Regions from separate parts of the Homo sapiens genome. Here region 2 is linked to region 1. The links come from fine-mapping of genetic effects on gene expression. A gene starts in region 1. The other region holds a variant in brackets. All regions are shown on one strand. Distances are between the middles of the regions.

Region 1 (4,395 bases):
CAAGGATGACATTATCTTCTGGGTAACCTGTGTGCCACTTTTTCACTCAGCTATTTAATCAATATTTGCTAGGCACTTACTGGCCACCCTTCGAGATGCTAATTCATAGGAGGCAATCAGCAATGGAAACTGATAACAGTTTAAAAATAAGTAGACAAACAGGAGAGAAGGGAGAACCAGCTGGTGAATATCCAGGATATTCTCTGTACTGCCCTGCACGTTCCCCTGACCCCATGTGTTGGAATGGCCACGTAGCTATAGGATATTTCTGATCTGTGCCTCAAAATCGGAATAATAATTCGTATCGGTGCTTGCAAACTGCTGGCCTACAGCATCCAGTTTCTGCAGGGTTCCAATGCTACCTTTGTGTTAAACCCACAGTGTTTTTTTCTAAAAATCAAAATCATGTTTATTCCACCATTACCTAGATACAAACATAAAGTAGCTATAAACTTCTAATGTTTATAATACCAATGAATCAGAGCCAAAAATATTATAAAAACCTTCACTACTTCATAAGGAACAAAATTCAAATCAACATTAGTTCATGTCACACACAAAAAATTATGAAACACTTTGAAATGGCCAGAAAAAGATTACTGTTTAGTACACGTTTCCAGGTTTTCTCTGCTTTTTATTGTCTTTGACAATACAAAATTTTACAAATTTGTAAGCTGAGGAAAATTGATAGTAATGAAAATTTTTCTTGTCCATAAAATACAAATGCATAGTGTTATACAGTGCCCAGGAGAGACAGTGATTACAGCTCTGTGGATATTGACCAGTTTAACACTCATGTGTAAATACATTTCAGCATTCCTGCTTGCTTTATGTATTTTATCTCTCTTTATCTTATCTTTTTGAGACAGGGTCTTGGTGTGTCACCCAGGCTGGAGTGCAGTGGTGCAATCATGTCTCAGAGCAACCTCTACCTCCCGGGCTCAAATGATCCTCCCACCTCAGCCTCCCAAGTAGCTGGGATTACAGGTGTGAGCCACTGTGTCTGGTCTGAATAAAGGAATTTTTAACTTTTAATTTTAACTACTTTAAATTTAAAAACTGATGTTTGGTTCAGCGATTTGAAAACAGTATATTTGGAACCGCTTGGATATGAGAATCTGCTTTTTAACCATACATTGATGAAATCTAAATAGAGAACAAGCATTTCCGATGACAGCTGCTCTCTCAGATTGAAATGCACTGCAAATGTAAAATACACACCGGATTTCAAAGTCTTTGCAAAAAAGAATGTAACATATCACATTCCTTTTTTTATTGATTGATTACATGTTGAGTATTGATTGGTTACATGTTGAAATGATATTTCGGGTATAATAAAGTGGGGTCAGGGAAAAATATTTTTCCCAAATAGGAAAAATAAATGGGTAAAATAAAGCGTACTATCAAAATCAATTTTACATTTCGTTTTGCTTTTATTTATTTATTATTTATTTTTGAGACCAAGTCTAGCTCTGTCGCCCAGGCTGGAGTGCAGTGGCGAGATCTCGGCTCACTGCAACCTCCGCCTCCTGGGTTCAAGCGATTCTCCTGCCTCAGCCTCCAAGTAGCTGGGATTAGAGGCGCGTGCCACCACGCCCAGCTAATTTTTATTTCTTTCCTTTTTTTTTTTTTTTTAGTAGAGAGGGGGTTTCGCCATGTTGGCCAGGTTGGTCTCGAACTGCTGAACTCAAGTGATCTGCCCGCCTTGGCCTCCCAGTGTTGGGATTACAGGCGTGAGCCACCGCGCCCGGCCTTCTTTTTGTTTTTAAACGTGGTATTGACATTTTAAGATGACATCTGCAACTCGCAACACTGGGACAAGGGATTCTGGGTCATAAATTCTCCCATTCCTCATTTACTCTGCAGCACCGGGTGGCTGCGAACTCCGCTCTTCTGCTTGGGTTTCCGCATCACCAGCAGCTTCTTTCCTTCCCAGGTGTCGCCGCCTGCTTTCTGCAGCCGCTGCCTGGGAGGGGTTCCGAGGTTCTGGGCAGCCACAGCCCCGGAGGCCTTACAGGAGCGACCTGGCAATTCCCGCCGCCGGCCGCCAGAGGAAGCTGCTTTGCTGCTGTCGTTGCCCAGCAACTCGTAGCCCGGAAGCAGTACCCCGTCTCGCTCGGTTCCGCGGCGGCCACGCTCCGGGAGACTTCCGGCAGGGCGGGCGCGGGGTCTTGGCGAACGGTCTTCGGAAGCGGCGGCGGCGCGATGACCACGCTACGGGCCTTTACCTGCGACGACCTGTTCCGCTTCAACAACATGTGAGTGACACGCGCCTAGGGCCAGCCGCTCTTGGCCGGGCCTCGCTTCCCGGCCCCGCCAGCTCCGGCCCCAGCCGCGCCTTCCCGGCCGGACCCCAAGCCCGGACGGGGACCCGCGAGAACCACCCCCCGCCGGCCAACGTGGGCGCCTCCCTGGGGCCACAGGGTCCAGGGAGAGGTGGGCCTGGAGTCGACGCACGCCGGCCTTGGCGACCTTGGCCGAGGTGCTCAAACTTTGTCTCTGGACCCTGCGAGCTGGCAGGTTCTGGGGCAGCGCTCGGGCCTCCGCTCGTGGTCGCTGTCAGGAGGCGCTGGGGTGATGGGGCGAGCTGGAGACGCGGCCTGGAGCCCACGACCTGGGCTTCTCGCCCTGCCCTACTGCTTGCTGGTTCGTGGCCGGGCCGCGCCTCTTCTGGGCAGAGGGCACCGCCGACGGCCAGGCCGCAGAGGGGGCTTGCGAGGATCGGAAGCTGGTCAGCAGCTGTTGGGATGTGTACATCGTGAAGCCCACCTGGTGGCCGTGGTTAAATTGTATCCAAATGAAATGACACTGATCACTGCGTCCCCTGCAGCAGATGCTGTCTCAGTCATGGTTAGTGTTTGCAAGTTTAGTTACTGTAGCTGCGCACCCCGGTGTACACACCTTTCCTCTGTGAGGAGTCACGGCAGATCTTAGGGGAGGCTCGCTGTGCCCAGAGCCCTGGATGCAGTTTCTTTGGATTCGAGTTAAGGCCAGACCTCTGATTTGCAGGTACCAATTTTTTTTTTTTAAGAAAACATTTTATTATGAAGATTCCCACACATTTAGAAAAGTTGGAGGAATTTCACCATGTGCTTTTATAGACACTTTTCCTGGATTCTGCAGTTAACATTTTGCTACGCTGGTATCTCTCCTTCCTTCCCATCTATCAGTCCTGGATCCACTTTAAAAAAACAACAGGGCGGTATGTGAAAACTAAGGACAAAGTGGTTCCGATTCAAGTGTCAGGAAGATGGAAAGAACTATGGGATAAGATGGCTGGGAACATTTCAAAGAGGGGGTGAGCCTTGAAGATGGATAACACATTGGTAAGTGAGGAAGACGGAAGTTCCGGAGAAGGAGCGGGGCATGAAAATGGGGAAACTTGAAGTGCGGTCAGACAACTGGGATCAGTGCGAATCTAGTGGCTGGTTTCTGCCACTGAGCAGTCAGGAAGAAATGGGTGAAACAGGAGGGGTTTAGACTTGATCCTGTGGAAAGAATTTTCTGTTGGGCCAGTCTGGTAGCTACGGTGACTTGTGTTGAACTCACTGTTCCCTGCATTGTTCTGAGTGCCCACGTAATAATCCAGTTAATCCTCACGATTCTTTGAGGTGCTGTCACCCCCATTTTGTGTATGAGTAAACCAAGGCATGGCAAGCACAAGTGAATTGGCCCAGGTGAGAATGAGTAAAGCGAGGAACTTCATCCAAGGATATTGGCTCTGGAGCAGTGGTTCTGAAAGACTTGGTGCCTGTGGTCAGGGGACCATGTTAGAAACGCACATTCCGTTTGCGATCCACTGCTCTGGAGTGGGTCTTAACCCACCTGGAGCCTCTGGAGAGGCTCACCCTCTCTTTAAAGTGTTCCCAGCCATCTCATCCCATAGTCCTTTCTATCCTCCTGACCCTTGAATCGGAACCACTTGGTTTTTCGTTTTCACTTACTGCCCTGTTGTTTTTAAAAGTGGATCTAGGATTGATAGGTGGGCAGAGAGAAATGATGAAGCCAGTGTAGCAAAGTGTTCACTGTAGAATCCAGGTGATGGATTCAAATTCTTAACCACTGAGCTCTGTGGGCTGTCATGTGATGACAGCAGGTAAACTGGGCAGGTAAGCCATTCAGGAGGCCTTGGCAGTGGCCCAGAGACGATGACTTGACAGAGGCTTCAGTTTGGGAGGTGCAGCATGGGAGGTGACAGGGTGCCTTGAAGCTTCAAGAAAAGGCAGAGCCTCATGGAGAATCAGTTTTAACTGAAGATCTAGGAAAGGACAACAGTTTTACATGGAAATGAATAGAAAGAAAATACACAGGAACACTTGCAAGAAAATATTAGATTTCAGAGAATCATGTGGCCTCTTCAGAAGGTGCCAGTAGGGGAACTCCACTTATTCCCCA
Region 2 (4,395 bases), 24 kb after region 1:
TACCCAAAGCCCTGCCTTAATTAATGCAATCAGGGGGCCAAACCATTAAATGCAGGGTCATGTTAGTGCATGAGATTAACAAAACGGCTGGGTGAGTTCTACGACTCATGTGAGATTCAAATCTTTCCTAGCTGTGGTTTGGTGCTACCTTGTGGGTCAAGCTTAACTACTGAAGGCAGGCGAGGACTTTCAGGACAGTGACAACAGAAGTTGCAAGGACATCCTGGTTTAGAGAATACAGGGATGTGCAGTTCCTACCTCCATCCCCCTCGTTCTCCGGGTGGGCCAGCCTGCTGGCTTCTTCCTTGCCTGGCCTCTTCCCCAGCCCCTTTAGGCTTTCCTGCTGCAGAAGGGGCGTCACCCACCCCCATGATATCCCAGTTCATCCTGGGCATCATCCTGGATGTCTACTGCTCTGGTATCTAATGAGAGGGCTACTTCCCCTGTCCCCCACAGCCACCTTTCCACGTACAAGCCTAATCTGAGTAGAAGAGACTAAGTTAGTTAGATCATCGTTATACTCTAAAATACACCCACATTTAGATGGTCATCTAAAGTAAGACTAAACACGTATCTCAAACAAAATTATATTTGACTTGAGATGCTCACCTCTGGCATGTCTAAACGTGGCTGACTGATGGCTAATTCATAGATTGCCCGTGCTCTGTCAATATCACCAAGGATTGTCTCTAATTCAGCGAATTTAATCCATGAGGTACAATTTTCAGGTCCAAATTCCAGGAACTTTTCATAAAGCTTCCGGCATCTGTCAAATTCTCGAAGCTGTAGCTCCAATTCTATGTAAACTTTAAATAATTTGTTCTTTGGACATTTGCCTATGGAAGTTCCCTGGAAAATAAAATAACCAGACCACTGTGATACTGTAGTGGATTTAATCTGTGCAGTTATTGCACTGCCCTAGAGGCTGTTCTCTGCTGAGGAAGAATCTTGCAAAGTCAACATGGCCTACCATTCTTTCCCTCTGTGGTATCACAATGTTTACTGGTTCTTGACAAAAGGCTGAAGGAAACTCCTCTAATTCACTCAGCAAGAGGCAGTGTTCCAGAATTGTTTGGGCAACTAAATAAAATAAGATTTGAAAGTTTCTCAGGATCTCCTAGGGAATAGGGATGTCAAATGCATAAAACCTCCTATAAATAAAAAGGACAAGGCATGGTGGCTCATGCCTGTAATCCCAGCATTCTGAGAGGCCAACATGGGAGGATCATTTCCGCCCAGGAGGCAGAGGTTGCAGTGAGCCAAGATCGCGCTACTGCATTCCAGCTTGGGGAACAGAGCGAGACCCTGTCTCAAAAAAAAACCAAACAAACAAAAAAAAAAAAAAGAAAAAAAAAGTGGAACAATTAAAAGTGCATTTAACACACCAAAAAGTTTGCACAGGATCAGATTACTAATTCCAGTCTGTGGAAAGATTTAGTAACTGGTAGCTATAGAAGTTTCCAATATTGAAACAGAATGTTAATTTGCCCCAGGTAATAAGAATAATTTACGCATTATTAGTCAGTGTTTTTACAGAGGACGCATGTTTTCTAACATGTCCCAGGCTATAAAGGTATAATACTTCTGTCACTCTTTAAAGTAGGAACTGTACAACTTCCAAGCACCAAGATTTTAATTTCTTTCTCATAGAACTTGA[T/C]GAGACATCTTGATCCTTTCTTTACTTACCAATGCTCTTCTGGCTAATGACAGATTCTTCTGTCGTATTTCAAACTGTGCATACAGTATCCACATTTTGGCAAATGTGAACTAGAAAACAAAAGCACAAAAATATCTAGCTTAAAAGCCTCATCCAAATTAAATTGAATTAAAATTAATTTAAATTAACCAAAGCCATTGGTAATTCGATTTCTCTAAAACTTCAGAGTAAGAGGAATGTACTCTGCTTATTTACAAGCAAAGACCACATTCATTTCACAAAAGTTAGAAACCCACATACCATGATCCAGATACTATATTGTACTGCATGGCATGGTAACCTCTCCTGAGAACCATGATCCAGATACTGTACTGTACTGTATGGCACGGTAGCCTCTGCTCAGAACAGACTTTGTTTTGTAGGCATGCTTGTATATGGGCAGAATGTCCTACCTCTATTCTGAAAAGTAACTCAGTCAACACTTCTACAGAAGGAAACACGTTTTGTTTCTCGTGCTGGGAAACAAGGCGGAGGTAACATCTCAACCATCTACACAAGGGGCACATTCATCTGTGCATGCACACACTCACTGTTACCAACAAACCCGCCTGTGTGTCCCCCGCACACGTTGTGTGCTCTCTGCATGGATGTCTTTCTCCTTCCACTCAGACTATTCACATTACCTAGCCTTCTCTGAATTTATATTATTTGTTTGTCAATGCAGGTTGTCCTCCAACCTAGTCTGTGAGCTGTTTTCAGAGGCAAGGAGCATATCTCAGTCTTATTTATGTTGTCCATGGTGGGACAGGGAAGCATTTTATCAATCAATATTATTTCACTGAATTACTTCACAAGTAACAGAAGAGGATTCTGACCTGTTTGAAATGGAACACTTTAGAGCAAACATACCTTTTTGTGAGGAATTAGTTCCAAAGAGGCTTGATACACCTGTCTTGTCCTCTCAGGATCCTGTATTAGGATAAGAAATTTTCACAAAATATTGAAGTCTGCTGCTAACACTCATTTTACTAGTTACTAATTTTACTGATATTGGTAAAAATGTACACCCCCAAAACAGCATGTTTCACAAGTTGTTACTTGCAAACCCTGATTTATGATCTAAAGTATGAACGGCCATGAAACTTCAGTTTAAGAATCACCAACAAGATAGCCACCAAACTTCTAAGCCCTTCTTTGTAGAAAGCCGTTTTGCCTGATGGCAGAAAGAAACAAAGATGTTTCATAGTCTCAGATCAAACCCAGAAGGTTAATACAAATGATTTCTGAAAATGCCACTTGATTTTTGCTAAAAGCAAAAATGCATAATCTAGCCAGAATTACTCCTATTAATGAGCAAATCCAGGAAACTATATTTCACTAAATTAAGGGCTGGTTCACTGTTCTCTTTCAAGCTCCAAGTGATATCTTGTTGTGCCTCAAGTAAAAATCAAACCAAAGTTAAAAAAGCCCCTCACGTGTGGCCACAACAAGCACAGAGGGTTTAAAATGTTGCAGAGCGAATATATAACTGTATGGATGAACAGAAGCCTATAAAAATTTAAAACTAAATTTCCTTCTTTCAAGAATTACAAACATCCACAATAGGTGAGCTGTGAATACAGAAGACAGGAAACCATTATCAGCTGACACATAATTCTGTTTTTTCACCTTTGCCTCCAATTCTTCATAGAGTGCATAGTTGATCCAAAGATAAATGTAGCGCTTCCAGTGCCTCTTCTCCTGAATGGGTGGGACATTGGCAATGGCCCTTTCATAGACTTCTCTCACGGCTTCAGCTTCTGCGTCACTTTCTACCAAGCGCAAGTAATCAAACCATGCATCATAATTGTGTGGATTCGCCTAGAAAGACAACCAGTTTAATAAATAAAAAACAAAACCAAGAGCTGCACTTGCCAGGTTAAGCAAGCTGAAAAAAGGCATCAGGCTGACTTTCTATATTTTAGCACCTTTTCTTCTAAATGTTACATGTTCTTTCATTTTAAAAACACCATCCCTGAGACTGCATAAATAGAAAAGAAACAGGAATACAGAGGATAGATTACTGGCCAGGTGTCCCACAGCAAGGACTCCTTCATCTATAGCCATCACTCTCACGACAGTCAATAATTAGATGCCTATTCTTGCCAATGCATTTGCTTAAATATGTGACTATGTATCATTATGTCTGTAACAACAGAATCGTATCATGCTCACAATTGTTAAACTTGCCTTTCCAATTAATAGCAATTCATCTTTAACATATCTTGCTAACCTACCACCACATTTAATAACAGACTTAGTCCTTTGCTTGGAGGTATCTTAATTAACTTGACTAAGGAAGAGTATTTTTAAATACACAACAGAATACTGAAGGAAAATGACACTCTCTTTGAATTGAAATCAAAATAGTACATTACAGAAAAAGAGATGCCGATGGAACCCTGTCTAGCATACATCTTTTGTTCAGGCAGTTAAGCTCAAAGGTGATGTGCAAAACAGGTTTTTGGACCAATCTCTGACTCTTCCACCTTCTTCCAACAATGAGCTCGAATGGATTCCACATTTCTTTTGCTCCAGTTCTACATACAGTCAACAATCAACAAAACGACTTACAACATGTAAGTGGCAGAGCAAATCCAAGTGTTGTTTGCTTGCCTTTTCTATCAGCCTTGTTTATTCCTACTTGTCTGAAATAGCTGCCAATTGGATCACGGGCACATCATCACGAGAGTAATCAC

Evidence for each region. PIP is the estimated chance that this variant, and not a neighbour inherited with it, causes the effect.
Region 2: its variant is the best candidate, but not a certain one, in a credible set for the expression of NAA20 in whole blood (INTERVAL, PIP 0.63).

Annotation. Positions count from the first base shown.
Region 1 is chr20:20,015,192-20,019,586 of GRCh38, forward strand. It overlaps NAA20 (N-alpha-acetyltransferase 20, NatB catalytic subunit), which reads left to right and starts at 2,171. Exons shown (of 6, transcript NM_016100.5): 1 at 2,171-2,258. The coding sequence starts at 2,206. RefSeq lists enhancers at 1,678-1,857, 2,472-2,972, 3,434-4,395 and silencers at 2,178-2,247, 2,298-2,417.
Region 2 is chr20:20,039,000-20,043,394 of GRCh38, forward strand. It overlaps CRNKL1 (crooked neck pre-mRNA splicing factor 1), which reads right to left. Exons shown (of 14, transcript NM_001278628.2): 8 at 3,326-3,517; 9 at 2,567-2,626; 10 at 1,687-1,767; 11 at 610-849. Among named protein-coding and RNA genes, the nearest start is that of CRNKL1, 11 kb to the right of the region's middle. The variant T/C (reference allele first, on the strand shown) is at 1,658.